2 separate regions of the Homo sapiens genome follow, and region 1 is linked to region 2. Evidence: fine-mapped expression QTL. A gene starts in region 2. The other region holds a variant in brackets. All regions are shown on one strand. Distances are between the middles of the regions. Region 1 overlaps RANBP3 (RAN binding protein 3). Region 2 holds the start of RANBP3 (RAN binding protein 3).

Region 1 (16,011 bases), 42 kb after region 2:
GGTCTTCGGCTTCTCCGTGGCCTGCAAGGGGCCTGGGATGCAGTGTCTTTTGTTGAACAAATGCTAAACGGGCTTCTACTGTGAGGTCCAGTTCCTTCCTAAGTCTAGTGGAGTCCCTGACACAACTCCCAGGATCAGAATAAGCCACAGAGAAAGAGTATAAGGGGCCTGGAGGTCACCTCACCAAGGGGTTCATTCTCGCTTGAGGGAAAAGGAGGGCGTCACTGGATGAGAGAGCAGGTCGTCTACAGAGGCCAGAGAGGGTATGGCCATCTCCTGGTCCCAGAAGTCATTTAGGAAGGGACAGATCCCCCAGGACCAGGGAGGACACCGTGTAAGGGTTTTGGTACAGTTGAAAGGCTCGTTGGATTAAAAGGGGAGAGAAAAGTCTAGAGCCACAGGATGGGACTTGGGGGTGGGGATGTCCTGGGCCTGCTGTTAGGAATGGATGGGAGGACTGGTGAGGCCAGGGAAGCCAGAGGTGAGGCGAGCAGTGCGGTGTCCGAGGAGATCGGGCTGTGCAGAGGCTGCTGGCCTCAGACAGTGACCTGCACAGAGCATTTGGAGGCCAAAGCCAGCCTACAGGGCTCTGGAGGGCATGGGTTACCCAGAGGGCAAGGAGGCTGTGTCAGGTGTTGTTTCTCACAGCTGCCTGTGCTGGGAGGCTGATGTAAGGGCCCGTCGAGGGCAGTAGCTGCCCCAGGCATGAGATGCCCAGGCTTGGCTGGATGAGCAAAGGTTTTGGCTGCCCGGGTGGGCAGATGCTGCTTCTCTGTACTTCTGTCACCTTTGCTAAGTATGAGGGCAAGCGATAGCTGGAGCCTGTACCCACCCCACAGATGTCACCCAAGAAAAGGGATGACAAGGTGGTGACAGCTCAGCACTATCAGATGCAACCCCAGGCTCTGGCATTTCTAGAAAGGTTCCCAGTCCAGGTCCCTCGCCTCCTGGCTGCACCCAGGACTCACTCCACACCCCTGACTCCCTATTCATGCCTGCCTTGAGCTCTAAAGCCCTGCCCCCAGCGTAGCCTCCAGATTTTACATCGGTTGGGAGTTTGATCTCATCAGGTGTGGGTCACGAGCATTATAATCATCTGCTCCCAGCGTGCAGGGCACTGGGCTGAGCACCTTACCTGCCCTGCCTGTCACCTCACGCATCCCTGTTTTCCAGGTGAGGAGACCGAAGGCTGGGCAAGGTAAGGTTTCACCCGTAGAAAATGGCAGAGCCGGAATACACTGAGTTCTTCCGGCCTTCAAGAGGCAGCAGGGACCAGGCAGCCTCTGCACCCCTCGTGCTTTTGGCCTGGCCGGAGTTGGTACTGACTCTAGGGCCTGGCTGCTTGATGGCATTGCGTTTTGGACTCAGTGGTATTTTCACAATTGCCCCAGTGACTAATAGAACCCACTGTTGTGTTACAAGGATTTTGTGTTTCCCACACACTTTGATGATGTCATCTCGTGGGGATAGTGATAATCAGCCCTCACTCGTACAGTCCCTTGGGAGCATTTCCAAAGCCCCCTCAGAACACGGGCCTCAAGCAAGAAGCCCAGGCTTGCTTTTCCCACACAAACCCATGTTGTCAGCTCACACGGGAGGAGAAAGTCCAGGGTAGCTTTTTTTCTGACCGTCGTGAACGAGCTATGTGACTTCAAGTCAACTTCCTACCTTCTCTGGGCTCTCACTGCCACAAGCTCCAGGCCTGGGCCTGTAAGCTAAGATGATGTTTACATTTTTAAAGGATTATAAAAGCAAAAACAAGAATATATGACAGAGACCAAATGTGGCCCACAAAGCCAGCAGTACCGACAGTCTGGCCCTTTATGGGAAAATGCATCGCCCTGACTTGAGGGGGGTCTGCCTTGGCTCCTGTGCTCCTCAGTTTTATTTATTGCAGTTTGCTTTCCCAGGCCACTCTGCAGTTTGCAAAGCACTTTCACATGCATCACCTCCCCTAAGCCCCAGCAGCTCGTCGAGGCAGGCGGGCCTCATTTGGCTAAACTTGACCTCTGAGGAGCATTTTAGAAAATAAGAAAATTGGCTTTTCTGCTTGCTCTTGCAGGGAGCGCGCCAGGAGGAGCGGCCCTCACTCATCGGTGCGCTTTGGGCTGCTAAATTCTGAGACAGGACATAAATGAGGGATTGTGTTGGGGGAGAGGATAAACACTCCTCATGTTAAGTTTTGAGTTTGTTTGTGTTTTGAGATGAGATGTGTCCTTCAGGCTGGGGTGCAGTGGCATGGTCATAGCTCACTGCAGCCTCAGACCCCGGGCTCAGGTGATCCTCCTGCCTCAGCCTCCCTGGGAGCTGGGGCTACAGGCATTCACCCCCCTGCCCAGCTGATTTTTATGTGGTTGGGTTTTTTATAAAGACAGAGTCTCACCATGTTTCCCAGGCTGGTCTCAAACTCCTGGGCTCAAGCGATCCTTCTGCCTCAGCTTCCCAAAGTGCTGGGATTACAGGCATGAGCCACTGCACCCAGTCCATTTTAAGTCCTTTTGTTTTTTTTTTTTTTTTTTTTGAGACAGAGTCTCGCTGTGTCGCCCAGGCTGGAGTGCAGTGGTGTGATCTCGGCTCACTGCAAGCTCCGCCTACCGGGCTCAAGCGATTCTTGTGCCTCAGCCTGTAGCTGAGATTACAGGCGTGCACCACCACGCCCAGCTACTTTTTTTTGTATTTTTAGTGGAGACAGGGTTTCACCATGTTGGTCAGGCTGGTCATGAGCCCATTTTAAGTCTTGGTTGCTGGTTGTTCACACTCTAAAGCTAAAGTTTGTGGAATAGGGAATTCTTCAGGAGCCTTCCCTCAGCCTGTGACTGGGCTTTGTCTTTGATGGTTCTGTTCTAAACACTTCGCAAGTGGGCTTTGGTCCAAAACATCCAAGCTCTTGCTTGCTCTGGGAATAACAGCCGACCCTGAGACAAGCATGTGCATGGTAGAATGTTCCAGGGCAAGGAAGGGAAATCGCTCCTATCCGGTGTGATGTGACCATTTTACACAAGTCCGCTGCCCTCAAGGGTGGAGAGGGTCGCTTTTCAGCTCTTGGCAGAATGAACGGGGGCCAGATGAGGTTCGGCTGTGTTTGAGTTTAGGGGTGGCAGGCCAGTTAGCGTAACCTGTGGAGAAACAAGAAACTGATCTGGGTGCTGCGGATGCTTTCCCAGCCACTGAGAGGATTCCTTGGCATGTGTTTGTGAAGCTGGGTGCAGAGGTTCATCGGGGGGATGTTTGAGCTTTAGGCTAAAATCCTGGCTCTCATTCGGGTGCTGGGCTCTGGGAACTAGCTGCCCGTGGTGCATGTTGGGATATTTGTTACGGCCCCGAGAGTTGCTCGGCTGCCGTGAGCCTGATGCCCTCTGACCCCGGCTGTGTGCTCCTTGTTTCAGAGGTCAGCTGGCGGCTCCAGTCCTGAAGGCGGAGAAGGTAAGGAGCTCTCTAACACCTTTGACCATCTTCAGTTTTAAAGACAGAAGCAACCTGATTTTTCTCCTCCTCTTCTCATCATTTTCTGTAGATTCTGACAGAGAAGATGGAAATTACTGCCCTCCTGTCAAGCGAGAAAGAACATCCTCTTTAACCCAGTTCCCACCCTCACAGTCAGGTAAAATATGCAAACTTACGGAATGGTGAAAGCGTTTATGCTTACAAACCCGCCATTCCCCTCAGTGCCGCGCATCCGTCTGCTGTGTCCTTCCTGCCCAGCTCCGGTTAGAGTCGATCTGAGGCTCGGGCTCTGTCAGGAGTGAGGTGAGAGCTTGTCCAGAGTGCAGCATCAGGGGTCCTCGTCTCGAATCAGTGACACTGACGGCATGGTGAGACTTGGTGGCCTGAGGAAGACTGTGAAGAGATCGTCCCTCTGAAATGGAGGAAAGGGGTTGACTACTGAGAGCCCTGTTGGGGCCTCTGCCTGTTAATTACATCTCCTCTTTCCAAGGCTGGACACAGACTGGGGGTTTAGGGGTGGGGTGTTCTCCCAACCCCTCAGCTGCATGCCCAGCACGGGCAGTCCAGTGCAGTAGCCCAGACACACACACGCATGTACACACAAGCATGCACACACACACGGTAACCAGCAAGCCAGGAGGCCCCAGCAGAGGCCCGTGTGTGATGCTGTGAACTCCCAGAGGAGAGGAGCTTGCGGGGGCCTGGAAGGGTGGGCCAGGCTCGGACTGTGGAGCAGGGCAGGCTAAAGGGCTTGAAGGCCCTGGACGTGAGGCCTGGTCTGAGCACAGGCCTGGAGGTCGGCCTGGGGACTCATGCAGGCTGGTACAGGAGAGAGGTTCCTGAGGCAGATAATGCCGTCAGCACTACTTAATATAACACTCAGAAAGCCCGGCCTCCTGCCATGGGCACAACTCTGCAGATTTGAGGGTAAATGCCACTGCAGGGCTATTCTCTCGTCCCCGTCTTGACTTCCCACTCTGGCATTGTCTCGTGGCCTCTGTCTTAGCTGTCTGTAGTGCCAACTTGGACATACATGAGTGTTTAGACAGGTTCTCTGGTTACCCAACTGAAATCCATTCCTGGAAAGTTCATGTAAATCATTTTACAGTCCTGAACCTTCAGGATGTCAAGTTGTTTCTGCTTACAGAAGTCACGCATGCGTTACAGGAACACACAGCGTAGGAAGCCAGGGTCCTTCCCAAGTCACCCCTCCACACCCTTGTTTTCATGCCCTTTTCCCATCACGTTGGTTTTGGACATGGCCGCGTCTTTTTGCACAGCTGCATTAGGTTTTCCAGTGCTATTACACTGTCATCTGCTGACTGGATATTGCGGAACTGTCCAGATGGCTTGCAGTCCAGGCTGCAGTTGGCATCCTTTTAATTTAAGGATCTTTGCACCTGTGGATAGGTGTTCTGTGGAATGAGGGAGCTCCACTTCCTGCTCGTTGATTTTATTCCTTCCCCCTCACTGCCCACTGCTGAACCATGCTTGCTGTATCGAAAACCAGCATAGAGAAGAGGAGGTGTTTGGGCTGTGAATGTAGGCTAAAGAGGCGAGGGACCACCATTCTTCTCCCCGGCCCTCTTCAAATCACCTCCCGTCCAGCGCAGCAGCCCCCAAGAGACACTCAGCTCTCCAGGGTAACTGGAGGCGTGAGGGGCACCAATAATTTGAACAGTGTTGTCTTTGGTTCCATTCTGCGTAGAGTGAGTTCTTCCCCTACGAATTCCACTTCATTTGTGGAAACCTGTTGGCTGGCCCACACCCTGGGAAGCAGTTGCCCTGGTGAAGGAAGATCTTAGGTGGGGGAGGGGGAACCCCATGGACAAGCCTTGACAGGTGAGGAGGAGTCAGGGCCTCCAATGTGGCCTGGAGCATCTGATATCTCCCCTGCCGGCTGCCCCTGCAGAGGTGCAGGGACAAGGGGGTGCCCCCAGTTGACCAGAGTTGACTGTAGTCATCAGACAGATCAAGGCCGTCGGGCTGGAGACCCTCGTAGTGCTGTAAAGAGTCTTGGGGTTTGCTGTTCTCGGGAAAGACTGAATGCCCTGTTTGCGTGCTGTTCCGTCTCCTCCCGTGGGACGTGAGAATCCACCCCTCAGGTGGGAGAGGTGATCTCTGAGCGTCCACCCCACCCATTCATGCTGTTTTTCCTCTTGTTCCCTCCCCCGCCTGCACCTCCTTGTCAACAGTTTCAAAAAACAATGTTTTTATGCCATCAAGCTTCTGCGAGCCATCTGCAGGCAATTCCGACTCAGAGCCAAGTGAGCCCCGGCCCCTCTGCCTTCCCGCCCGGCCTGGGGGTTCTCCTGGGAGGAAAAGCAATTGGTGTGGGAAAATCAGATCTTCAGCGGGCATTTAAAGTCAGTTCTTCTTCAGCTGTTAAAATTTTTCCCCCAACTCTTCAGCTCATAGTCTGGGGATCTGGCGTGAGATGAGGCTTCATAAGCCCTCATGTTTGTTTCTGCAAGCAGGGCCTGGTTGCATGGAGCTCTAAGTCCTCTAAAAACAACCTGTGAAGAAATGTATCACTCATTTTTCAAAATTTTATACAAGTAATGCATTCATAATTGGGGTTTTTTGGTTTTTTAGACAGACTTTCACTCTTTTTGCCCAGGCTGGAGTGCAGTGGTGTGATCTCAACTCACTGCAACCTCCGCCTCCCGGGTTCAAGTGATTCTGCTGCCTCAGCTTCCCGAGTAGCTGGGATTACAGGCGCACACCACAATGCCGGGGTAATTTTGTATTTTTTTAGTAGAGACAGGGTTTCACCTGTTGGCCAGGCTGGTCTCCAACTCCTGACCTCAGGTGATGCACCTGTCTCGGCCTCCCAAAGTACTGGAATTACAGGCATGAGCCACCGCACCTGGCCCATAATTGTTTTTTCTTTAAAGTAAATCAGAAATATTTCAACTAAAAAGAATCCCTGCCCCTTCCCCACTCACCCTGCCATCCCAAAGGTAACGCCTGTGAAGTTGGTGAATTTCTAGACCTCTTTTTTGTGCATTCTCACATTAATTTTGCTCAGACCTACCTAGATAAATATGTTTAATCACAGCTTCAAAACTTTTTGTGTGTTTTGGAGACGGAGTTTCACTCTTGTCCCCCAGGCTGGAGTGCAATGGGGCGATCTTGGCTCACTGCAACCTCTGCCTCCTGGGTTCAAGCAATTCTCCTGCCTCAGCCTCCCAAGTAGCTGGGATTACAGGCATGTGCCACCATGCCCAGCTAATGTTTTGTATTTTTAGTAGAGACGAGGGTTTCACCGTGTTGGCCAGGCTGGTCTCGAACTCCTGACCTCAAGCGAGCTTCCCGCCTCAGCCTCCCAAAGTGCTAGGATTACAGGCGTGAGCCACCACGTCTGGCCCCCAGCTTTAAAATTTTAAGGAAAGCCGCTCCCCCTTTCTGAAGAATATGGAGCCTGCCTTTTTGGTCTTTCACTGGAGAACCAACTCCAAGGTTTCCTGAAAGTTTCTCCCACGTGGCTGAAATTCCTCATAAAAGATTTAACAAGCGAGTTTAACAACCTGAATTCTGTAACCCAACCTACCATATATAAATTCATTGCCGACTTCAAAAGCATTGTGAGATAAGTTAGCTGCTGGCGTGATGTCCGTGTCAAGGGAAGAGGTGGGTTCTTATAACTCTCAGCATTGAGTTGATGGCCCCGTTTCAACAAGGCATTTTGACTCTAAAAGCAAACTGTTTTGAGCCGACCACCTGGTCTCATCCTGCAGAGGGGCTTGGTGTTTCAGGGTCCTCAGGAAGGGCACGATGTTGGTTATTCCTGGGGTGTCGCTTAGCAGGTGGTGGTCTGGATGGGGGCACAGAGCCTGCCACGGTGAGGCAGGTTCTGCTTTAGGTGATCAGTTACTAAAGCCGTGTGTCTGGACCCATTTGTGCTGCTGAGCTCTGTTACAAATCTCATGATCGCTTCTGAGGTCTGTGAGCAACGGCCTCCCTCCTGTCTCTCTCCCCACAGACCTTTCCCCTCCAGCCTCGAGCAGGGCAGCTGTTTCGCAGGCCCCGACGCGGCATGGTTTAAAGCCCCAGTGCCCTCACGCATGAAAAGGCAGTCATATCAGCCACACATCAGTTCTGCAAACCCAACTTCACATCCTTGTCTGCCTGCCTTCTGTTTTTTAGCTTTAATTTTGAAAAGCTTTAACACTTACAGAAGAATTTCTCTGTCCCTTTTGTCTGAAGACCCCATTTAGCTTTCTCCAGTCAGCTCCATGAGTCCATTAGAAAAAAGGACTGAGACCCTGGTCCTACCACACATACCTCCACTTTTATCGGGAACAGGTCTTCAGGCTTCCCTTGACTTTCATGACCTTGAGGATTACAGGTCAGCTGTTGGGTAGAAGTGTCTCAGTTGGGGCCTGTCCAGTATGTCCTGGTGGTGAGACCCAGGTGTGGCATCTTGGATGAGAATGTCACAGAAGCCATGCACAGTACTCACTTGTCCCCTTACCAGCACGGGGTGGCCGTGCTCCTCGATCAGGGTGCTGTCTGCCAGGTTTCACCACTGTAAAGCTACTTTCCCCTTTGTGCTGGATGGTTTCTGAGAGACACTTTAGACTCTGGGACTGTGTGTACCTCATCACACTCCTGCCCTCCAGTGTTCGCGCCCAGTGATGTCTTTAGAGTGATGTTTCCCGCTGACGACTGCCCCATGGGATTTTCTTCCTTTTTTTTTTTTTTTTTTTTTTTTTTTTGGAGACAGAGTCTTGCTCTGTTGCCCAGGCTGGAGTGCAGTGGCACAATCTTGGCTCACTGCACCCTCTGCCTCCTGAGCTCAAGAGATTCTCAAGCCTCAGCCTCTCAAGTAGCTGGGATTACAGGCACTCACCACCCGTGGGATACTCTGAGCACCATCCCTGCCGCGTTGATTAGTGGTGTTCACTGGAAGGAGGAGCTTGCCCTTCTCCCCACGTGCTTGTTCCTTGATCGATTGTGTCAACATAGACAGGCGAGCTTCTGTTGGCATCAGTGGGTGACCGTCTATGGTTACTGGTTTTTATTTAATGTTCAGGTTGTCCCAGATTTGGCCAGTGGAAGCCCTGTCAGGCAGGTCCCCGTTGTTCATTTGAGCACTGCCCTTACTTTGTCACAACAAGAGCCTCCCGGCTCAGCCTCTTTTCTCATCCCAGTCCTGGAATCTGCATTTCTCAGAGGCACGCTGGTTCTTCAGGGAACATGGTCTTTAGAAACCAAGGTCTGAAATCACTCCGTGCGGTACTGCGATCTCACTGACTCAGGTGTAGCCCTGCTCCCGGCCCTCCGCGGACAGAGCTGGGGACACACCTTTGTCCACATGATCTCTTACTCTCTGCCTGCCTGCCTGCCTGCATGTGGAGATGACGGACAGAGCTGGGGACACACCTTTGTCCACATGATCTCTTACTTTCTGCCTGCCTGCCTGCATGTGGAGATGACGCCAGGGGCACGTGGGTGCCTCCCTTGGTATATTCCTCCCTCTTCTGGCACTAAGAAACCGGCACCCTCTGTCCTCTGTGCATCAGGCATCACTCCCTGCCCACCGCATGGCTGAGCCTCCTCCCCACCCTGCACCAGCGCCGTCCACGCACAGACCCCAGCTCCAGCCAGGCTGCCTTCTCAGCATTTGATGCACACAGTCTCATTCCCATCCCTTCCCTGGTTAAATCGGGG[C/T]TCCCTGGGGGGCAAGCATGGCTTCCCACAGACATCACTTGGGGCTCTCTGAGGCAGGCGAAAAGCACCCTCAGACAGGGAGCCTGCCAGCTTCCCAGGAGGGCAAAGGCTGCCGGCGGGAGGGGTCCTCTTCCTCTCTGGAGTGATGCGCATCCCTCAGAGACTGGTGCAGCATCCTCTACAGGCCCACACCCTTTGGGTATGTGGCAGGCGTCGGGCTCTGGCCATGATTCAGCAGCTTGTGTTGCGACCTGTGTTGCAGAAGAAAATTTCTGGAAGGAATGAGAAGAGACCACCCTTGTTTTCGTGGAGCAGGGCCTGTGACAGGGACCTCCAGATTTTGGCTACCCCTGGAGCACGCCTTGTCTGTCTGCAGCTCTGGAGAGGGCCACGCTCTGGGCCTAGCACTAGTGGCAGGTCGGTGGCAGGGATTATCCAAGTCTCCTGCTTCCGCTTGGCAGCTCGGGCCAGCCCCCAGGCTCCCCTCAGCGTTAGCGCCAGCGCTGCACGGAGCGGAGTGTGGAAGGGCAGTAGTCAGTCTGTGACCAAAACATCAGCGTGGAGAGCCAGCTTGAAGAGCTTGCTAAAAACTATCTAAATTGTGAATTTGACCTTTTAAAAATGTATCTAAATTGCCAGTCGTCTTCTGCATAGCTCCGTGCTTTGGAAATGTAATTGAGTGTTTCCTTCGGAAAAGGAACATCTGGCGGCTCACCCCCGCATCCTGCAGGATCTGGCTCTCCTGAGTTTGTTTTTTTATGACCAGTCTGTTACGGGAGAGGCACCAGCTCTGCTAACACAGGCTGCCAGAAGCCCCTGGGGCTGGACTCCCTCATACAACTATTATAGTAAGAAGGGTTGCTGCAATCCTCTTGCTGCCCAGGCACAGCGGCGCCTCCGGGGCACAGCGGGAGAGGGGTCTTCCTTGGCCTGCTGAATCTTGATTTGGAGTCTGAAAATTTGGGCTGACAAGGTGTTTTGGGTTTTGTTGTCATCGTTTTAGTGTACAATTGAGTGGTTTTAGTACATCCACAGAGTTGTGCGACCATCACGTGATTAATTTTAGAACATTTCCATCATCCCAAAAAGAAACCTCATCCCTGTTAGTCACAGCCTGCCCCCAACCCCCTCCCTTGAGCCCTGGTAACCGCTCAGCTCCTTTCTGCTTAGTCTGGCATTTCACAGAAATGCAATCAGACAGCATGAGGGGGTGTTTTTCTTTTGATTTACACCTTTAATTTCTTCCAACAATGTTTTTGTTTTGTTTGAGACAAGGTCTCACTCTGTCGCCCAGGCTGGAGTGCAGTGGTACAGTCGTAACTCAACTGTAACCTCAAGCTCCCAGGCTCAAGTGATCTTCCCACCTCTGCCTCCTGAGTAGCTGGGACTACAGGCATGTACCACCATGCCTGGCTAAGTTTTTAATTTTTTGTAGAGTTAGGGTCTTGCAGTGTTGCCCAGGCTGATCTCAAACTCTTGGGCTCATGCAGTCCTCCTGCCTCAGCCTCCCAAAGCACTGGGATTACAGGCATGAGCCACTGCACCCGGCCCTAACATTGTTTTATAGTTTTATCTTGTGAAATGTATTCCCAAGTATTTTATTCCTTTTGGTGTTATTGTAAATGGAATTATTTTCTTAATTTTGCTTTTGGGTCATTCACTGCTAGTGTTAGAAACACAATCGATTTTTGTATATTGATCTTGTGTCCTGTAGCTTGACAAGGGGGTGAAGCTTAGCACAAACGCAGGGCTACCTCCAGGAGCCATAATGCCACAGTCTCTGTGCCTTGCCCAGGAACAGGCTTGCCTGCCTGAGTCACAGGCCTTTTATGACAATCCTTCCTGTTGTGGATCAGATTAGACCACCATCCCCACTCCCTGTATGGGCACAGTTGCCAAGACACACAGATGAAGGGGTCCATGTGGACAGGTGGCTGGGCGAGGCTGGGCTCTCGAGCCATCCCAGGAGCTCGTGGGCATTCACCTTTCCCTCTAGTTTTGTGAATTTGTCAGCCCGGACTCTGGCCCAGGGGGAGCTGGCCTCCTCCACGGTGGCCAGGAGTGCCCCCTCACTGAGACGGGAAGCTCCGCAGGCACATCTGGAAAGGGGAGGCAGGCTCACTGTGTGCCACCTTTGACCTTTTCATCACAAAAACCTGTCTCACTTCCCAGACATCTGTAGTGGTGCCAAGGTTCTTCCTGGCCACAGCCGCATCCTCTGACAGACAAGCCTTCTAGGAAAGGGAAGTGGGGCCTGAGCGCCTGTGTTCCGTGGCTCCCTGACATTCTCCAGAGCCAGGTACAGGGCCGCTGAGCAGCTCGGCTCCTGAGCCTGCAGCAGGTCATAGACAGCTGGGAGGGCGGCTGACGCCCCACCTGCCCCCATGGTCAGCAGCTGGCCCAAGAGCCATCGTTCCTCCTGCCCTTGTCTCTCCCCTCCTCCAGGCGCCTTCCAGGCCTGCTGATCGGACGAGACTTCTGTTGTAATTTGGAAATGTTCTCCCTGGTTCTCCAGGCCCGAAGTCACTGAGGCCAAGACCATAGTCCTCTCCTGCCCTTGCCCCCCAGGCCCAGCCCCAGCCCAGGCAGGCCTGCTGTTGATATTTTGTCTTGTGCTTTTAGAGGAAAGGAGCAGTGGCTTCCGGTTGAAGCCACCAACGCTGATCCACGGCCAAGCCCCCAGCGCAGGTAGGTCGTCTACCTCCCTGGGGCGGGGGGTGGCTCTCTGACGTTTTTCAGACCTCTGCTAGGCCACACCAGGGCACCGCGGGCTCAGCCTGCTTTCTAGAAAGATCACTTGTAACTTGACCCACGAGCCCTGGAAAGTTCCTTTAAAGAGAGGCTGTCTGAGCAGGGAGGTTGGGACCCCTGACTGTGAGCGTCGTGTGTTCAGAAAAGTGGGCAGTGGTGGCACGGGAGCAGGCTAGGCGGGGTGCATCGGGCGGGCTCCATGCCCAGCAGTAGCGCACTTGGTTCAGCCTGTCTGTCCTTCATGTTCTGGCCCCCACATACCACAGTGTTCGCCCCAGTTAGCAGGGTGGCTGCATTCCAGCGGCGCGCTGCTAGTGAGCCGGCTGCTAGTGAGGCTGCCGGGGATGCTGCACAGGGCAGGGCACATGCAAGGGTCCTTGTCCCATCTGCCTTTGGCAGAGGGACTTCCTCAGCATGGCTGTTTTGAAAAACAGGTGCAAAATGTGCCTGTACGTGACCCCACACCGAGTCCTGAGCCTCCAGGTAGCTGCCTGTGAATGCACTGCTCTCCTCCCACAGTCTCCACTTGACTGTTGAGTCTGCCGGCGCCCCGCCACGTTACTGTGCTAACTGGATTAATTCACAGGCGTCGGTCACTGGGAGTTTCATGTAATCACATGTAAAAATAACAGTAGCCAGATCTCCTGGCCAGCTGTTAAAAAAAGACCTCAAGTTTTTAAAAAAGTGCTTCCCTGCAAAGTCTAGCCTGCAAGGGGCATGAAATGGGATGCCAGGGGTCAGTCTCTGAAGCGCCTGGGGGCAGGCAGGGGTCCACGGGCACTGGGAAGGCCGCCTTCTGTTCCTAGGTCTGCCAAGCCAGAAGCCCAAGGAGCAGCAGCGGAGCGTGCTTCGCCCGGCAGTGTTACAAGCTCCGCAGCCAAAGGCGCTGTCCCAGACTGGTAAGAAACAGCAGCCCTGGCGCCCAGGCCCAGACGGCAGGGTAGAGCGTTCCCGAAGTCGCACCCGGGACAGCAGTGTTGCGACAGAGGTGACTGCTGAATGCACCAGAAATACAGAGAGATCAGGGAAGATGATCCTTTAAATCACCCCCCAGCCGTCTCCAGCCCCAAGCCTCCTGAGCCCTGGCAACGGAGAAGGGAGAGGCGGCTCCACAGCTTCCTCACAGCTCTCGGCTGAGTGTGACTGTGTGGGTGAAACCTGCTTTGTTCATTCACTGTCTTCATAAAAGCAGGCCGGCTCCTGGGAATGAGATTTATCCCTGTGTGTTTGCAGATAGAATTTCAGCCTCAATTTTCACAGGTTATCTTTAAAAACTTGAAAGGTCATTTTATTTATTTATTTATTTATTTATTTTGGAGATGGGGTCTTGCTCTGTCACCCAGACTGGAGTGCACTGGTGCAATCATAGCTCACTGCAGCCTCGAACTCCTGGGCTCAAGCGATCCTCCCACCTCAGCCTCCCAAGTAGCTGGGACCACAAGTGTGCACCACCACACCCAGCCAGTTTGTTTTATCTTATTTTAGAAACGAGGACTTGCTGTGTTGCCCAGGCTGGTCTCAAACTCCTGGCCCCAAGCATTCTCCCCGCTTCAGCCTCCCAAAGCACTGGGACCACAGACATGAGCCACTGTGCCCGGCAGGTTTCTCTTTTTTGTTTGTTTCTCTTGTTTTTTTTTAAATCCAAGAATTTTGGCTCTTTGTAGAGATACCAGGTCCTTCCTTAAAAAGGAGACATGTGCTGTGGGCTTTACCATGGGAGGGGCCCTAGACTAGACGTGGCCCAGCCCCTCAGCTATGTGAGTGGGGGTGGGAGGGCCGCCAAGCACCTGTGATTCCCCACTCTCCTTCCCTCCCACAGTCCCCAGCAGTGGCACCAACGGGGTCAGCCTCCCAGCAGACTGCACGGGGGCAGTGCCCGCAGCATCCCCTGACACTGCTGCATGGAGAAGTCCTTCCGAAGCTGCCGATGAGGTGTGTGCACTTGAGGTCAGTGGGTCCTGAGGCAGGGAAGCGCTGCATGCTAGGCCCCTTGGGAGCGGGAGGGCAGCCTTCCCAGCATGCTGTGGAGTCCACACGCTGTCACCTGTTCCAAGCAGTTTCCACGTGGGCCTATTGTAAGGCTCTCTGGATTTGCTCAGTAGGCTCTAAATAACAGTACCTGACAAACCAGATCTAGATTCCCAAGGGTGGTCTTGCTGGTCAGGCAGAAGAAGAGTGTCTCCCAAGCAAGCTCTGCCGGAAGGACCTGTTGCCCAGAGTTCTGCCGGAAGGGCCTGTTACCCAAGGCTGACCGCCACATGTCTCACGGGAGTGATCCTTGAGGGAGGACCTGAACCACTGCACTCTGAGGAGTCACTAGGGCCCGAGGAACGGCTGTCACTGATGGGTGTCTTGCAATGTTTAACATGAGGAATGTCTCCCCTCTCTGTGTCCACACCCAAACCACCCCTCAGAGACTCCTATCTGTGTGGTTCCAGTTGAAAATTTTTCTTTGGGAGTCATCTCAGAAATAGTTTGTTTAGGCCGGACACGGTAGCTCACACCTGCAATCTCAGCACTTTGGGAGGCCGCGGCAGGTGGATTGCTTGAGGCCAGGAGTTCAAAACCACCCTGGGCAACATAGCAAGACTCTGTCTCTACAAAAAATACACAGATTAGCCAGGCATGGTAGCATGTACCTGTAGTCCCAGCTACTCAGGATGCTGAGGCTGGAGGATTGCTTGAGCCCGGGAAGGGGAGGCTGCTGTGAGCCGAGGTCACACCACTGCATTCCAGCCTGGACGACAGAGCCAGACCCTGCCTTAAAAAAAGAAATAGTTCCATTTAAGCGGGGGTATGGTTTGGATTATATGGGCCAAAAGCTTTGTGTTTCACAGCCACTGTGAAATAAGGGCCTTTGATGAAGAGCCTCCTTTGAAGTTGGCAGAGATGGGTTTGAAGTCAGAATTAGGGTAACACCATGTGGTATCTTCTGTGTAAAAGCCAGATTGGATCTTTGTGTTTATTTTCCGCTCTGTGTCCATGGCCTGCAGTTTTATACCCTCCATCCCCAGTAGATGTTCTGGCTCAAAGGGTGAAAATGGCTGTCCACAATTAAATTTGAAAACATCCTCACGCCCTTTTTCAAACGAGTTTGCTGAATTGGAAATAGGGATCATTTCCACCGCATTCTGCGGCTTGGAAGCTTTGACTGCTGAGGTCTCCTGAGCAGATCAGGTGTGCAGTTCTGAGTTGGAGAAGGACTTAGAAGTGACCCAGCCCGTCCCGCCATCTCCCAGTGTCTCTGATTGTCCCCGATGGTGAGTGCACAGGCTGACCTGGTAGCACCCGCTACCGAGAGCTTGTTCCTCACTGGAGAGGCCTTGCTGTGTCCCATCCCAGGGGACGGAGTCCGTCTTCCTGCCGGTTCCAGCCCCTTCTCAGCAGTGCACACAGCTTGTTCCCAAATGGTTGAGCTCAGAAGTTGTGATGTGCTGGCTGCCATTCCCAGCTCCTGCGTCTGGCTCCAAAGCCACTGCTCCATGTGGGTCTGGGGTGGAGCCATGCGGCCACACCCACGCTGCCCTCTGACCACACCCAGTACTGTTGAGATTCGCCAGGCTCGCTGTGTGTATCCTTCTCTGGCCCTACAGCAGGAGTCCGAGCTTTTCCAAGCCGCCCATGAACATGGCACACACTGCTCATCGGGAACGTGAGCTATGAGGCATCTCCTCTAAGGAGGGCTTAGATGTTGGGGGCGACCCATGGGGGAACTCCTGGTACCGTCTTTGGGAAAGTGGGGAAGAGGCTTCCCCTCCCGCCCCACACACACACAGAGTCTCAGACTGGTTACAGGCCTCGGGATTCGTTTATCAGTTTAAGCGAATCCTCTAAGCAGGCTCCGCCAGGTCATAGACATACCCTGTAGTCAGAAACATTTTGCTGTTTGCCTGCCCCATCTCAGGTGACTCTGTGGGCTCCACCCACCCGGGATTAGCACCAGTCGGTGTGAGCAGGGGGCACACAGCGCAGAAAGCCAAGAGCCAGGGAGTGTTTCTGCTGGACGGGATGCAGGCGGCCCCAGTGGGGCTGGGGATTAGCCCATCCTCTGAGGACTTCCAGGTCGCCAAACACGTTGTGTGTTTAATTTTAAAAAGCCACGTTCACTCTTGCACAGGCACAAGGATGCAGCGTGAAGTC
Region 2 (16,011 bases):
AGCCAACTGCCCTTTTTCCTGGAGTTGTTTTGATTCCTCTCAAGTCTCTGCTGCCCCCCAGTGGTCACTCTGTGACACAGCGTTTTCCTTTTCACAGGGGACACAAAGTTGGATTTTGCCCAGAAGCCTGGCTGATTTGTTTACTTATTTGCAACGATGCATGATAAGAAAGATCAAAAACAAGTGAGTGAGTGAGCTAATTTCCTTCCTTCCCTTCTCCTCCTCCCCTTCTCTTCCTCGAATATTTCCTATTTGTTTACAAAGGCCCAAAATATCCCCCCAACATAACAATGGGAAAAAGTCACCTGGCAGATACCATTTAAAGCAAGCGATTGGACGGGCGCGGTGGCTCACGTCTGTAATCTCAACACTTTGGGAGGCCAAGGCAGGCAGATCACTTGAGGTCACAAGTTCAAGACCAGCCTGGCCAACATGGTGAAACTCCATCTCTACTAATAATACAAAAATTGGCCTGGCGTGGTGGTGCGCACCTGTAGTCCCAGCTACTCAGGAGGCTGATGCATGAGAATCGCTTGAACCTGGTAGGCAGAGGTTGCAGTGAGCCAAGATTGCACCATTGCACTCCAGCCTGGGCAACAGTGAGAGACTCTGTCTCAAAAAAAAAAAAAAAAAAAAAAAGGTATAAATCGCCATCATGTGCCCTTGCTAGGATGCATTGACACAGACACACATCGCTTCTGCGTAATCCCTGCCAAAAACACTTAACCTGAGTTTCACTGTGAGGAAACATCAAACAAACCCAAAGTTAAGGGGCATTCTACCAAATGATTGGGCAGTACTCGTTAGAAATGTCGTTGTCAAGAAAAGGTATATAAAAAATGGAGGAAATGATCCAGACTAAAGGAAACTAAGGAGAAATACCTACATGCAAGACAGGATCCAGGACTAAATCCTGGAACAGAAAAGGGACACTAGAGCTGAACAGAGGAAATGTGAATAAGGCTTGCACATTAGTGAATAGTACTGTATCAGTGCGAATGTCCTGATTTTGATCAGGATGTGAATATCTGAGGAAGCTGATGGAGGCTATATGGAACTCTTTGTACTATTTTTGCAACTTTTTTTAAGTCTGAATTTATTTCAAATGTATTTATTGTAAAATTTAATTTATTTAATTTAAAATAAAGAGGCTGGGTGCCGCGACTCATGCCTGTAATCCCAGCACTTTGGGCGGGCAGATCACTTGAGGTCAGGAGTTCGAGACCAGCCTGGCCAAGGTGGGCAGATCACTTTAGGTCAGGAGTTCAAGACCAGCGTGACCAACATAGTGAAACCCAGTCTCTACTAAAAATACAAAAATTAGCCGGGCGTGGTGGCGGGCACCTGTAATCCCAGCTACTCGGGATACTGAGGCAGGAGAATTGCTTGAACCCGGGAGGTGGAGGTTGCAGTGAGCAGAGATTATGCCACTGCACTCCAGCCTGGGTGACAGAGGGAGACTCCATCTCAACAAAAGAAGGAGGAGGAGGAGGAGGAGGAGGAGGAGAAAAAGCAGAGTTGATCAGGAGATAGGAATGTGTCACCGAGCAAAGTGAAGGCTTGGGAACCCGGCTGTGGCACTCTGGGCTCTCCACCTCTCAGCACGGCTGACCTGGTTGCAGATCAGGTCATGTGAAGGAGAATGTGGCCCTACCCCATGTTAACAGGATCCAGCCCAGCTTTCTTCCAGAGAGAAGCAATTCCAGTCCCAAATCCCTGGCTGATGTGCCTAGTTTGGGTCAGGGGTTCCTGCCATCATGGGCAAGGGGCCACCATTGGTCACATCCGACATCCTGTTGTCAGGAACTTGAGGCCGTGGGTTGAGGGAGAACGGGGAAGGCAGATGAACTAATAACGCATTCATGATGAAGTCCCTCCAACCCCACCTGGCTCCAAGCTCCTTAAGGGCAGGAATTATACTTGATTGATCTCTGGGTACTCAACCTCAGTGTGGGCTGGGCACAGAGCAGGCACTGAAGCACTGCCCCAGGAGTTAAAGAAACCTATGACTAATAGAAATTCCTGAGTTTGCTGGATAAGAAAAGAAACAACTTACTGAAACTCCCTCTGCTTGTAAGATAACAAAACTGGCTGAAGTCAGTTGGAACAATATGGCGGACTGGAGTTTGCACAGAACGAGCTTGCTGATGTCATAGCCTCAATTTCTACCGCATGGTTTAGACTAATGCCCCCCGAACTTGCACATGCGCTCCATGAGGGATGAAGAGATAACTGCGCATGCCAGAGGACTTTCCAGACTTCCTATTCCTTTCTACCAGTCACCTACCTACTAATGCCACAGTCTACCCCCTACACCTCTTCTAATAAAGGTATTGACTGCCTTAGGGTGGGCGTGGTGTCTCAGGCCTACAATCCCAGCCCTTTGGGAGGCAGAGGGAAGAGGATTGCTCGATGCCAAGAGTTTGAGACCAGCCTGGGCAACATAGCCAGACCCCATCTCCACACACGCAAAAAGTATGGTCTTAAAGCTAGCACGGGGAGACAGCTTTGAGTTGGACTCCCATCTGCTTGTTAGTCAACTTGCAATAAAAAGCTTTTCTCACAAACCCATGTCCTAGCATTGGCTCCTAGCGCGTCAGACAGCAAAGCTCCTTTTGCTCCATAAAAACACATGCTGGCTCCCTGCCCATGATGGGAAGATGAAAACTTAATTGCAGCTGTGAAGACCCCTTTTCCTGAAGCCCAGCTGCAGAAGCCATCGTCCTCTTTGGCTGCAGAGGAGAGAGGGACATAAGTCTTCAGAGCTCAGCCTGGGTTCAGAGGCTCCTCAGAGACCTGTATCCTGGTGAGCCAAGGAGGAAGCTGACAGCACAGAGGCCAATCAGCAGTTAAGGGCAAGTCATTTGAAGCCCTCCCATTTCCTGCCTCCAACCCCTGCAATTAGGAGAAAACCCTAACTCCTCACTGCAGCCTCCAAGGCCCTGCACGCTCCCTCCCTGAGCTCATCTCCACCACCTCTCTTTTTGGTCACTCGGCTCTAGCCACACCGAGCTCCTTACCATGTGAAATTATTCCCTCAGCTGGGCGTGGTGGCTCACGCCTGTAATCCCAGCACTTTGGGAGGCTGAGGCAGGAGGATCACTTGAGGTCAGGAGTTTGAGACCAGCCTGGCCAACATGGTGAAACCCCGTCTCTACTAAAAATACAAACATTAGCTGGGCATGGTGGTAGGCGCCTGTAATCCCAGCTACTCGGGAGGCTGAGGCAGGAGAATCGCTTGAACCCGGGAGGCAGAGGTTGCAGCGAGCCGAGATCCTGCCACTGCACTCCAGCTTGGGAGACACAGTGAGACTCCATCTCAAAACAAACAAGCAAACAAAAAGTATTCCCTCTTTCTGTCACTGTGTCATAGCATGCTGTTTTATTTTCTTTGTAGCACCCATCACTATCTCAAATTATTTTGCTTACCTGTCTACTGTTAGTCTCCCCACAAAAGGCTGCAAATCTCCGTGAAGTCAGGGCCTGTCTAGTTCATCCCGGGAATCCAACATGTGCCTGATGCCTCATAGGTGTGGTGGATACATACTACTGTGTAATGAACATCCCTAAAGCTTAGTGGCTGATAATGGCAATTCTTTATCTTTCGTAGTTTCTGTGGGTGAGGAATGGGAAGGGCTAGGCTGGGTGGTTCTGACGGGGCTCAGGGTCTCTCATGCAATTACAGTCAGCGGCTGCCGCAGGAGCTGTTGGGGTTTGGCTGGGCATCTCTTGGCCAGGGCCTTGCCATGAGATCTGTGTTTCAGCTTCCTTACAGCATGGCAGCCGCAGGGCAGTTGGACTGCTCACATGGTGGCCAAAAGCTTTCAGAGAGACTGTTCCAGCAATGCTGCAGAAGCTGCATCTCTGTCCGTTATGTCCTAGCGTCGTCAGTTACACGGTGTCATTTCCTGTGTGCTCTATTGATCAGCAAGCCCACCTACATTCAAGGGAAGGGAGCTGCACCCTCCTCTCTTGCTGGGAAAAGGGTCAACGAATTTGGGGCCATATTTTAAAGCTACCACAGTAGGCAACTGACAAATATTTGTGTAAGTGAATGTTGACTAAGTTAATTTGCTACGAGAGGCCAGATGAGGAAAGCTGGCAGCCATCAACACTTGGAGGAGGCTTGCGAAACCACTGGAAACGTCCTTGGCTCATCAGCCTGACAGGTTTTGCGTGTCTCAGTGTCCCCTGAAAAGCCACGACTGGATTCTATTTAGCAAGTGATGACATGGTGCTGCGAGTTTCCCAAAGTGTGGGATGAATGTGGTGTGTGACATGACTTTAGGCGACATGTAGACATGGCGTTAAACGACAATGAATAACATAGATTATGTTAGCCCGTTTTCAATTCTCTTTCACTCCTTCTCATCACATCAGGAAGGAAGTTTCCGCCAAGTGCTGAAGCCTCTTCAATAACGCTCTAATACTTTGCTAATCTCCCTTTGTATCAAAGAAAAAGCAGGCCCAACACCTTGGCAGGCGACAGTATCTACTTTGAATGTGAAAACATTGTTTCATTTTCATGTTTGCTTTTACAATGGTCTACTCATGGCTTAGTGGTTTTCCATTTTAAACGGTGATACGAAGTATCTGTTTAATGTAAATTTAAACCAAAAGAAAAGTATCGGCCGGGCGCGGTGGCTCATGCCTGTAATCCCAGCACTTTGGGAGGCCGAGGCGGGCGGATCACGAGGTCAGGAGATCGAGACCATCCCGGCTAAAACGGTGAAACCCTGTCTCTACTAAAAATACAAAAAATTAGCCGGGCGTAGTGGCGGGCGCCTGTAGTCCCAGCTACTTGGGAGGCTGAGGCAGGAGAATGGCGTGAACCCGGGAGGCGGAGCTTGCAGTGAGCCGAGATCCCGCCACTGCACTCCAGCCTGGGCGACAGAGCGAGACTCCGTCTCAAAAAAAAAAAAAAAAAAAAAAAGAAAAGTATCAAGTTCATGAAAGGTCACACCGTGCAGATATGGTAAAGGCTGAGAAGACCTACCCAAGAGAAGTTTGGGGAAACCTGAAAATAATGAAACCAACACCCCAGGAATGACAGATGACCTGAATTCTACACACTGTGGGTGACCAGGGGGACTGACATTCGAGCTACTCTTAGAGAATTTCTTTCTTTGGTTTTTTTCGAGACGCAGTCTCACTCTGTTGCCCAGGCTGGAATGCAGCGGCGTGATCTCAGCTCACTCCAGCCACCGTCTCCCGCACTCAAGCAATCCTCCCACCTCAGCCTCCTGAGTAGCTGGGACTACAGGTGTGTGCCACCACGCCTGGCTAATTTTTTCTATTTTTGGCAGAGACAGGGTTTTGCCATGTTGCCCACTCAGGCTGGTCTTGAACTCCTGGGCTCATGTGATCTGCCTGCCTCAGCCTCCCGAAGTGCTGGGATTACAGGTGTGAAGTTTCAAATTAACCGTTTTCTTTAGAGACAAGGTCACAATCCGTAGCCCAGCCTGGAGTGCAGTCGTGCCATCCTACCTCACTGCAGCCTGCAACGCCTGGGCTCAAGCCATCCTCCCACTTCATCCTCCTGAGTAGCTGGGGACTACACGTGAACACCACCACAACTAGCTAATTTTTTGCAGAGACAGGATCTCACCATGTTGCCCAGACTGGTCTTGAACTCCTGGGCTCAAGCAATCTGCCCACTTCAGCCTCCCAAAGTGATGGGATTACAGGTGTAAGCCACCACGCCTGGCCATATTGTGTATTTTTTTTTTTTTTTTTTTTGAGACAGTCTCACTCTGTCGCCCAGGCTGGAGTGCAATGGTGTGATCTTGGCTCACTGCAACCTCCGCCTCCTGGGTTCAAGCAATTCTCCTGCCTCAGTCTCCCAAGTAGCTGGGATTACAGACGTGTACCACCACACCTGGCTAATTTCTTATTTTTTTAGTACAGACGGGGTTTCACCATGTTGGTCAGGCTGGTCTTGAACTCCTGACCTCAAGTATTCACCCGCCTTGGCCTCCCAAAGTCCTGGGATTACAGGCGTGAGCTACCGCACCCAGCCCAGATTGTGTATTTCTAATAAGCTTCCAGGTCATGCTGATGCTGCTGGTGTGGGGACACACTGAGAAAGTAGCAGGTTTTTGTTGTTGTTGTTGTTGTTGAGACAGAGTCTCATCTGTTGCCCAGGCTGGAGTGCAGTGGTGCGATCTCAGCTCGCTGAAACCTCCACCTCTCGGGTTCGAGTGATTCTCCTGCCTCAGCCTCCCGAGTAGCTGGATTGCAGGCGCCTGCCACCACACCCGGCTAATTTTTTGTATTTTTAGTAGAGACGGGGCTTCACTGTGCTGGCCAGGCTGATTTTGAACTCCTGATCTCGTGATCCACCTGCCTCAGCCTCACAAAGTGCTGGGATTACAGGCGTGAGCCACCGCGCCCGGCTGAAAGTCAGGTTCTTGAAAAAAATCTGGTGTGTGGCCGGGCACAGTGGCTCACACCTGTAATCCCAACACTTTGGGAGGTCGAGGTGGGTGGATCACTTGAGGTCAGGAGTTCGAAACCAGCCTGGCCAACATGGTGAAACCCAGTCTCTACTGAAAATACAAAGATTAGCCAGGCATGGTGGTGAGCGCCTGTAATCCCAGCTACTGGGGACGCTAAGGCAGGAGAATCGCTTGAACCCGGGAGGCAGAGGTTGCAGTGAGCTGAGATCGCGCCACTGCACTCCAGCCTGGGCAACAAAGCGAGACTCTGCCTCAAAAGAAAAAAAAAAAAAAAAAAAAGAATCTGGTGTGCTACTACTGCGCATGTCCTCCCAACTCTGGTGCTAGTGACATCCCATTAGTAACAATATAGGCCATGGCTGAAGGATTCACACCCAGAAAATCAGCAGACGCTACAAAACAGGGTTCAATTTGTTTTATTAATTGTCTTGTGGTCTTAAGAAAGTGATAGAAAAATAAGTAAAATTTACAATAAACTATATACACACACATAAATACATACTAACGAATACATTCTCTTCCAGAGAAGCTGCTGTTAAATATTTACCACATCCCACTGGCTGTTCAGAAAAGTTTAACAACCATGTAAATACATGTGTCCTGGATTAGGAACTGGCAAACTTTTTCTGTAAAGACACAAACAGTAAATGCTTTAAGTTTTGTTGGCCAAAAAGTTTCTGTTAAAAAAAAAAATTAGCTCTAATGTCACAGCTCAAAAGTAGCCAGAGACAATATATAAATGAGTAAGCATTGGCTGTTTTCAAATAAAACTTTATTTACAGACACTGAAATGTAAATTTCACACCATTTTCACATCAATAGATATTCTTCTTTTGGTATTTTTTTTCCCAACCAGCTAAAAATGTAAAAAAATCGGCAGGCGCGGTGGCTCATGCCTGTAATCCCAGCACTTTGGGAAGCCAAGGTGGGCAGAGCACCTGAGGTCAGAAGTTCGAGAGCAGCCTGGCCAACATGGTGAAACCCTGTCTCCACAAAAAAACACAAAAACTAGCTGGGTATAGTAGTACACAGCTGTAATGCCAGCTACTCAGAAGGCTGAGGCAGGAGAATCACTTCAACCCGGGAGGCGGAGGTTGTAGTGAGTCGAAATTGTACCACTGCACTCCAGCGTGGGCAACAGAGTTAGATTCCAAAATAAATAAAAGAAAGGGAAGGGAAGGAAAGGGAGGGAGGGAACAAGGGGAGGGAGGGAGGAACCATTTTTAGCTCATAGACTATATCTGGCCCACAGATTGTAGTACTCCTCGCTCTCTTTTAGATCATACTCAAAAAGGTGCAGAGCTGGGACTCCAACCTAGGTAAGACCTGAAACACAAGGTCCCAGGCAGAGAGACGACCAAGTGCAAAGACCCTTAGGTTGGAATGAGCTTGTGCTCCAAGGATGGAAAGACCCACGCGGCTGAACAGCAATGAGCAAGGGGGAACAAAGCAGGGCATGGGAGCCAAGTTCAGGGGACTTCATAAACCTGAATACAAGGTTTAGGATATTCCAAGTTCAGCTGAGAGCCCTCTGGAAGCACTGAGTGGCCTTGATATTTCCATTTTCAGTCTATGTGTATATATATATATATACACACACACACATATATATGCACACGTGTATGTATATATCTGTGTGTATATATATAGATAAAAACAAAGTATATATGTGTATATATATGGGGGAGGTTCTTGCTGTGTCCCTAGGATGGTGGCAGTGGCACTGTCACAGCTCACTGCAGCCTCAACCTCCTGGGCTCAAGTGATCCTCCTGCCTCAGCCTCCCAAGTAGCTGGGACCACAGGCTTGCACCACCACATCCGGGTAATTTTTGTGTTTTTGTAGAGATGGGGTCTTGCTCTGTTGCCTAGGCTGGTTTTGAACTGAGCTCAAGCGATCCTCCCACCTTGGCCTCCCGCAGTGCTGGGATTCCAGGGGTGAGCTACCGCGTCTGGCTGATTATATTTTTCAAAGACTCCTCAGCCTGCGGCCATGTGCAGAACCAAGCCTGGGGCTTCAAAAGAATGCAGCAAAGGATAGCAGAGAGGCCGCTGTCCAAGTCTTCCATGAGATAGATACGGACGATGTGGCCTAGGGTGGTGACAGCCTGGGGGTGACAATGGGTGGCTCTGGGCTGTATTTTGGAGGCAAGGCCAAGTCCGAAGGATTTGCTGAGAGATTCATAGCAGGTGAGTAGAGAACAACTCCAGGGTGTCCAGGACCCTCCCATGAGCCTTGTGAGTGAGGCTGATGGTCCCATTTTACAGATGGGTAACCTGGAGGCGCGCGGTTCCCCTCCCATGAGCTTGTGAAGTTGATTCTCGTAGCTCCGAGGGGTCGAGTCCCTCGCGCCGGCTCCCCCCGCCCCCAACGCCAGCACCTGGGTCCCAGGGCTGCGCCCCCTCCTAGAGCCTGACCACGACCCCCGCCCCCGCCGATGAGCTCTGATTTACCCCCCAATCCCAAGCACCCCGCGCCCTCTCGCCACTTCCCCCGTGGTTTCAGGAAAGCGTTTGCCGAAGGTACCGGCTCCTAAGGCGGGTAAACTGAGGTAGGAGGCAACGCGTCTCCCGCCCGCGCGTGTGGGAAGCCCCCGCAGGCCCGGCGATTTACCTGGAGGAAGGCCTCGGCTGCGGCGCCCTGAACTGCTCACTGTCCCACCGCGGGGGAACCCCGGAAAACGAGTGGGAAAACGAGTGCTTCAAGACCCGCCTCGGGCCGCGCGGTGCCGCCTCACTAAACCTTAGTCGCTGCCACTGCGCATGCGCCCTTCCCGGCCCTTTCCCCGCCCTCTCAGTCGGCGGGAAAAGGAGGCGGGAGATGGCTCGTGCGCAGGTGCGTGCTAGGAGCGCGGCTCGTCAGGGCAGGCTGCTCTGCAGGGCAGGCGATCCGGGGCTCGCCTCCGCGCGGCATTCAGCGCGCAGGCGCGAGCTGGCCGCCTCACACGGAGTCGGCTTGTTAAGTGCGCACGCGCGGGAGTTTCTGGCAGAAAGCAGGCGAGCCTGGGCCGGCGCGGGGCCTTGTGGGAGGGCTTAAGGAAGTAAAATGGCGGACCTGGCGAACGAAGGTAGGGGAGGCGCCGTTGGGGACCGGCTGGCGGCCGGGGAACGGGCGGCGGGAGGACTAGGGGCCACAAGCCCTTGGGGGGAGCACCGCAGAGTGCAAGGGTTTCGTCCGCTCCAGGCTAGCGCCGTGGCGGGCCTTGCAGCCGCCCCCTATTGCGTCCCCTCAGGCCGGGCTCACCGGCCCGGCCCATCACTCCCGGCAACCCCAGCCACTGCAGCCGTCTGGCTAGAGGAGCCGGGTGGCCATCGGGATCGCAGCCCTAAGGCCCCTCTGCGTCGCAGCCAAGCTCGGGGCTGAAGGGGGCGGGAGGCGCGGCCCCAGTGCTTCGGCCACGGATGTAAATAGACCTTAGGGCCTGGTTGTGGCCCGGAGCGCGCCACGCTCCCTCCCCGCCCCCTCGTCCTCCGCCACCCGGCATCTCCCCTTCCCCGGCCTGGCTGCCTATCTCCTAAGCCCGTGAGGCCCTCGTCCTCCGCGGGCCAGCCGCACACCGCGGACGGAGGAAGCCCAGGCCGTTTTCACCCCGTCCCCGCCCCGAACTTCGGCCCCCACTTCCCGCCAGTTCCCCCCGGATCCTTCGGGGCGCTTCGTCTCCCCCTCATTTAGGCCCCGCCGCAGGATCTGGGCCGCCGAAAACCCTGGCTGCTCTTTGGCCCTTTTTGCTGCACTTCCAGACAAGAGACCGTGCGAGTCCCTCCTCTGTGGAGCGCTGACAGCCCACCTGAGTGTTTTTGACAAGGTTACACTTCCAGATCCCCCGAGAAGGCACCATAAGGCTGATGTCTGCTTCCATCCATAGTCGTGTTGCCATCGCTGTAGCTTCAAGACTTCTGAGGCCTATTTTTAGCTCCCCCCCTTTTCTAGTTGCACAAATGCAGGCAAGCTCTCTACCTGTCTGGCTCTGATTCCCCCATTCGGTGCTCCCTGTGACTGGAGGGTTTTCCCTACCGAATTGCAGTAATGAATGAATGATGATAGGAAGTGCTTGGTCTTGTGGAGCATTTAGGGTAGTTACCAGGTGTGGTGCAAAGTCTTGACATACTGTTTTCCCTGGTAGGAGGTATAGATACTGTTAGCCCCATTCACTTGATGAGGAGACTGAGTCAACGTGGTTAAGTCGCTTATCCAAGGCGTGTCACACAGCTGGGAAGGAGCAGGGATGTGAACCAAGATGGCCTGGCTTCAGATGCCAGACCACGGGTGCTCAGTCCCTGCAGATTCTGATTCTGTGTGGTGTTGGGCGGGCGCTGGGCATCTGTACAGGCAGCAGCACAGGTTCTCTCCCTGATTCTTGGCCATTTTATTCTATTTTATTTTTTGGGACGGAGTCTAGCTCTGTAGCCAGGCTGGAGTGCAGTGGCGCCATCTCGGCTCACTGCAATCTCCGCCTCCCGGGTTCAGGTGATTCTCCTGCCTCAGCCTCCCGAGTAGCTGGGATTACAGGCGCGCACCACCACACCCAGCTAATTTTTGTGTTTTTAGTACAGACGGGGTTTCACCATGTTGGCCAGGATGGTCTCCATCTCCTGACCTCGTGATCTGCCCGCCTCGGCCTCCCAAAGTGCTGGGATTACAGGCGTGAGCCACCGCACCCGGCTGCTACATCTCTTTTTTTAAGATAAAGGAGCCCATGGAGGGTTGCAGCATTCCAACTCATGAGATCTAGTTACAGAGGGACTGGGTAAGTGGGAATCAGTATGACATATTTTATGTATTTACATCCTGAGCCCACATAGCTTCTTGAACTCAGGACTCATGTCCAGCATCACATTTCGACATCTCCATTTGGATGTGTCATAGGTAAGTCTAGAGCGTTTCCAAAACAAAATCCTTATCTCCCCCACTACACCTGCCCATCCCATGGTCTTTCACCCATTGTAGTTAGTTAGGCAGGTCCATTCTTTGAATTCTTCTGGCCCCAAACCTTGAAGTCACCCCTGGTTTCCCTCTTTCTCATACTGCACAGCAAATACTATCATTTCTACCTTAAAATTATTCCCAAAGGGGGACCACCACTTCTCCCCACCAACACCGTCAATGCTTAGCCCCCGTTCCCTCCACCCTTACCCATCTGAGAACTTCTCAGCCCATAGTGGGCCCCAATATGTCCCTGTCCTTCTCTCTCGCCACTCTCTGCTGCCTTGCTCTGTGCTAACTACTCTGGCTTTTTCAGTTTTCCTTGAATGTTGCATACACTCCCCGCTTTTAGCCTTTTCTCCTGCTGATTCCTCTAACTGAAACAGTTTTCCCCCAGATACCCCCATGGCTCACTTCTTCTGGTTTTTACTCATATATGTTACTTTATTAATGAGAGCTTCTCTGGCCACCTATTTCAAATTAAATCCATGTTCTCTATTCCGTTCACCCTGCTTGATTTTCCTGTATAGCTCTTAACAATCCGGCATGCTAGATATTACATGCATGTTTGCCCCATGTAAGCTCCATGAGGTCAGGGATTTTTATGTTATGATCACTGATTGCCCCCTTGCATCTAGAACGGTGCCTGGCACAGAGTAGGTACACAGGAAATATTGGTTGAATGAATGAATGCATGAATGAATGAATTCACCAGTGAGGACCCTGTTGTGAGGAATACATTTGAGCACAAAGGGGAAATTATGGCTTGCCCTTTTCCAGGGGATACTGTTTCTAGCATATGCTGTCCACATGAGCTATTGGTTGTAAATGGGATAGTTGAACTGGTAAGGGCCAAAGAGAGAAATGGAATGTTTTGAACTTCACTTTTTTTCCCTAGTAAGTGCCACACTCACCTAGCACGTTGTCCCTGACGCTAGTTCTGGGATAACTGTCCTCAGGAAATCAAATCTTGGTGGACTTTGTGCCTCATATATCCCTGCCGTCCTTCAATCAGTCATTGTGTGTTTCTTGAACACTCCATTTCTGGTTTTGGCTTGTACAGCCTGCCAGGATGTTTAATTTGTTATTCACTGTGTAAAGTGGGGCCTCCTTGCCTGTGCCTTTTGAAGCTTTAGGGGCTGCCCCATGGTCACGTGTTTGTTCTTGCTGTTTAAGCTCTAGTCAAATGCCCTCTTGGCTTCTGCCTTTCCAGACTGAGATCATAAGTTGCTCCACCCTCACACCCAGTCCCTCCTCCATCCATTTGCCATCTCTCTTCTCTGGGCCAGTCCCACCTCTGTGTCAGGCTGAGCAGCGGCTGTCCACCCGGCTGGGCATCAGTACCCCCTGGGGAACTTTCCTGAAACCGCAGATGCTCAGTCGCCACGCCCTGCAGATTCCGATTCTCTCTGGTGTTGGGTGGGTTCTGGGCCTCTGTACAGGTGGCAGCACAGGTGATTCTCATGTGCAGGCAGGGTTGAGACCCGCTGGTTTGAGTAGTAGAGGGTAGGTGTCCTCTGCTTGTATACGAGGAAATGTTTTCTGTTGTGTAAAGCATCTTGTTGGCCCTCGTCACCATGGTGAACGCCTCATGGATGGTGACAGCAACTCTCACAGCCCTTCCTGTGGTCTGGGACTTTTAAAGTCCACCTGAGTGCTTTTCCTCTCAGACAGTGTGTGTGCATGTTTCACCCTTGCATCCAGGGATAAGTCTCCCCTGCTTGGCATTTCCCCATTGATACCTCCCAGACTCATTACTCATCCTGTCTCTAGGGTTATGCTGCATTGTAGGCTGACATCAGGATTTGAAGGCAGAGTTTTGTCCCTGGCAAAGGTAAAGAAGACTGGAAAGAGGGTGAGCAAAGCACATTTGAACTCCAGGGAATCTTGGATTCTAGATCCTGACATGAAAGGCCCTGTTGGCCTGTGGACATGCGTGGTGGAAACCCGGGAGACAGTGTGAAGCAGGGCTCTCACCTTTGTGTGGTGCAGTTGACGTTTTGATGGCTCTCTTTGGCGGGAGGGGCTGTCCTGTGCGTTGCAGGATCCTTAGCAGCACGGTAGCATCCTTGGACCTACTCACTAGATGCCAGTAGCACACACCTCCCCTCACTCGCGGGGTCGTCATGACAACAGAAGAAGTCTCCTGACACAGCCCCTGGGGAGTGGGGGTGGGGAGGCTGCAGAATCGCCCCCAGGTGAGAGACTCACTGGTATCGATGGTGGGGACACAGGCTTTGGTCCTCAGAGAGCTGGGTTTGTGTTTTAACTCCGCTGTCCACTCTGAGTCATTTGGGGCAAATTTCTTAACCTCTTTGAGCCCCCCGTTTCCACACCAATAAAATGGGAATAATGGTAACCACACCCACCTCGTGGTTGCTGTGAGCATTGAAGGAATGAGTGCACATACATTGTTTAGCACCAGTCTCTGCTCATAGTAATAAACACTCAGGTCACTGTTTTTACTACAGTGCACTCTGCTCTGGACACATTCAGCTGAAGGGTTCAGCAAAGTCTCCATTGTGTGGGTGAACCTGCCCCACTCAGAGTTGGCCCTGGGCTGAGCCCCTGGCAGAAGACCAGCAGGGCCTGGGCTCTGGGTCCTCCTAAGTTCTGTCCTGCCTGTCACTTAGTGATCTCAGGGATCCCAGCCTGAGCACTACAGACATCTGGGGCCAGGTAATTCTCTGTTGTGGGCGATTGCGCTGTGCACTGTAGGATCTTAATGAGGATCCCTGGCCTCTACCCCACTAAATGCTAATAGCACATCCCCCTCCTCATCCCCGCCAGTCATGACAGTGGAAATGTCTCCGTCCCAGTGTCCCCCCGGGGGCAGAGTTGCTTTCAGTTGAGAACTACTGATTTAAAAGCCTGACCAGGTATGAGTCGAGAGATTTTTGAGGGTGGTTTGGCTTCTCTCAGCTTGCACCTTGTTGACTTAAAACCTAGCCCCTGAGAGGGTGAGATGCAACTGAATTTTTATTGGTTAGCTAGAACTGAAATAGTTGGAACCTATCTTAAACAACTTTTGGAAAGTTTCTCGTGAATTTATTATAAAAACTAATTCTGGGATTTTTGCTTAGAGCAGAATGTGTGCTTTCACCTCCACTGTGCCTCCTGTATCTGTAGCAGAAGGGGCCTGATGGTACCCAAGGGGTATCCAGGCTGCAAAATCTTTATACTCTTTGAAGAGACTTTCCATTTTGCCCAGGATCCTGCGTATAGACAGAAAAGCCCTCACTGGGCTTCTGCAAAATGTTTCAAACAAGCCTTCAGCCTGCCTCTCCGTTTACCAGAAAATGGGATTTTCCCGGCACCCTCGTGCATTCATTAGGTGTTAGGGTCAACCTGGGTCTGGTGTGTGCTCCTCCTCTGAGGTGGTCAGAGTGAGCAGAAGCAGCAGGAATGGGGTGAGCTTCGAGTGGCATTTGGAGGAGCTTGGGGTGGAGAAGGGGGGTTGAATTCTGCCCTCCTACGTGAGTTCAGACAGTGAATAGGCCTGGGTGTAGTGGGAGACGAAGGCCATTTGGGGAAAGTTGAGATGCATTTGGGGAATCTGAGAAGAGAGCGCCGTTCCTCAAAACTTACCAGAGGACCACAAAACTGCCGAGATGGCTGGTATTGGCTTGGCTGGGCATTTGGTAGCTCTCCATGGTACTTTGAAGCAATCGTGAGGCAGTTGGGCTTGCATCATTATCTATTCAGGGTCTGGTGGTGATGTTTTCTTTGTTTTAGGGGGTCCTGGTGGAGCGGTGTTCTGTTTGACTCTGCCCTACGCAGTAGAGAATAACGTGGCCTGGGACATCAGGGTAAAGCTCCTCACCACCACCTTCCACATGTCCACAGTTTGCTTCCTCCTCAGTAGTCTTGGCACTTAGAGCTGCCACACAGCACTAGCTATGGATCTCAGCCCTGGATGGGCTTCACACTTGTTTAAGGAGGTTGTCAGGGAAAATCAAAACTGCTGCCTGGGCTGCACCATTGGAGATGGTTCCAGGAGTTCTAGGGTGTCTGTGGTTTTAAAGAGCTCCACAGATGTTTAACAACATGAAGCCAGAGTTGAAAACCACAGGCAGAAGTTGCAAACTTGCCTGAAGGGCAAGCAGACATATTTAATTTGGCCCATTTAGGTTTTTGTTTGTAATTAGGAGCCAACACTTAAAATTCTGAGATTTCAGAGGGGAAAAAAATTGTATTTCTGATTTCTCTCAGAAAACAGCAACCACCCTTGGCCTGCATTCTTGCACAGCAGTGATTTTTCAGTGCTAAGGAACAGCTGCGCCTGTGGATAGATTAGATTGGATATTGTGGTCTCCGCCATGTTACTTGGGGCCTAGCCCACTTCCTTCTCTTCCAGTGCCTGTGACCTTGGTTGGTATTTGGGTTTCAATCCTATTATACAGACTCCTAGACTCTGCATTCTCTACACTTAGAGTGCTCTTTAGCTAGAACCTTAGCATAAAGCACCTCATGGTCTGTAATTTAGGATTTAGTGTCCTTGGAATGCTAGAACTCAGATAGCATATGGCAGCAGTTCTCAAAGATGGTCCGGGGCCCTGCAGTCCCCAAGACCTTTTCAAGGGGACTGCAAGTTCAAAACTATTTCATAACAACACAAAGACACTATCTG

What was found. PIP is the estimated chance that this variant, and not a neighbour inherited with it, causes the effect.
Region 1: its variant is the best candidate, but not a certain one, in a credible set for the expression of RANBP3 in whole blood (TOPMed, PIP 0.52).

The regions. Positions count from the first base shown.
Region 1 is chr19:5,929,211-5,945,221 of GRCh38, reverse strand. It overlaps RANBP3 (RAN binding protein 3), which reads left to right. Exons shown (of 17, transcript NM_007322.3): 4 at 3,387-3,423; 5 at 3,515-3,601; 6 at 11,743-11,808; 7 at 12,678-12,770; 8 at 13,691-13,818. Among named protein-coding and RNA genes, the nearest start is that of CAPS, 23 kb to the right of the region's middle. RefSeq lists an enhancer at 104-744 and a silencer at 5,268-5,448. The variant C/T (reference allele first, on the strand shown) is at 9,121.
Region 2 is chr19:5,971,575-5,987,585 of GRCh38, reverse strand. RANBP3 (RAN binding protein 3) reads left to right here and starts at 9,446. Exons shown (of 17, transcript NM_007322.3): 1 at 9,446-9,525. The coding sequence starts at 9,504. RANBP3-DT (RANBP3 divergent transcript) reads right to left here and starts at 9,183. Exons shown (of 4, transcript NR_046376.1): 1 at 9,072-9,183. RefSeq lists silencers at 9,053-9,102, 9,153-9,322, 9,553-9,662.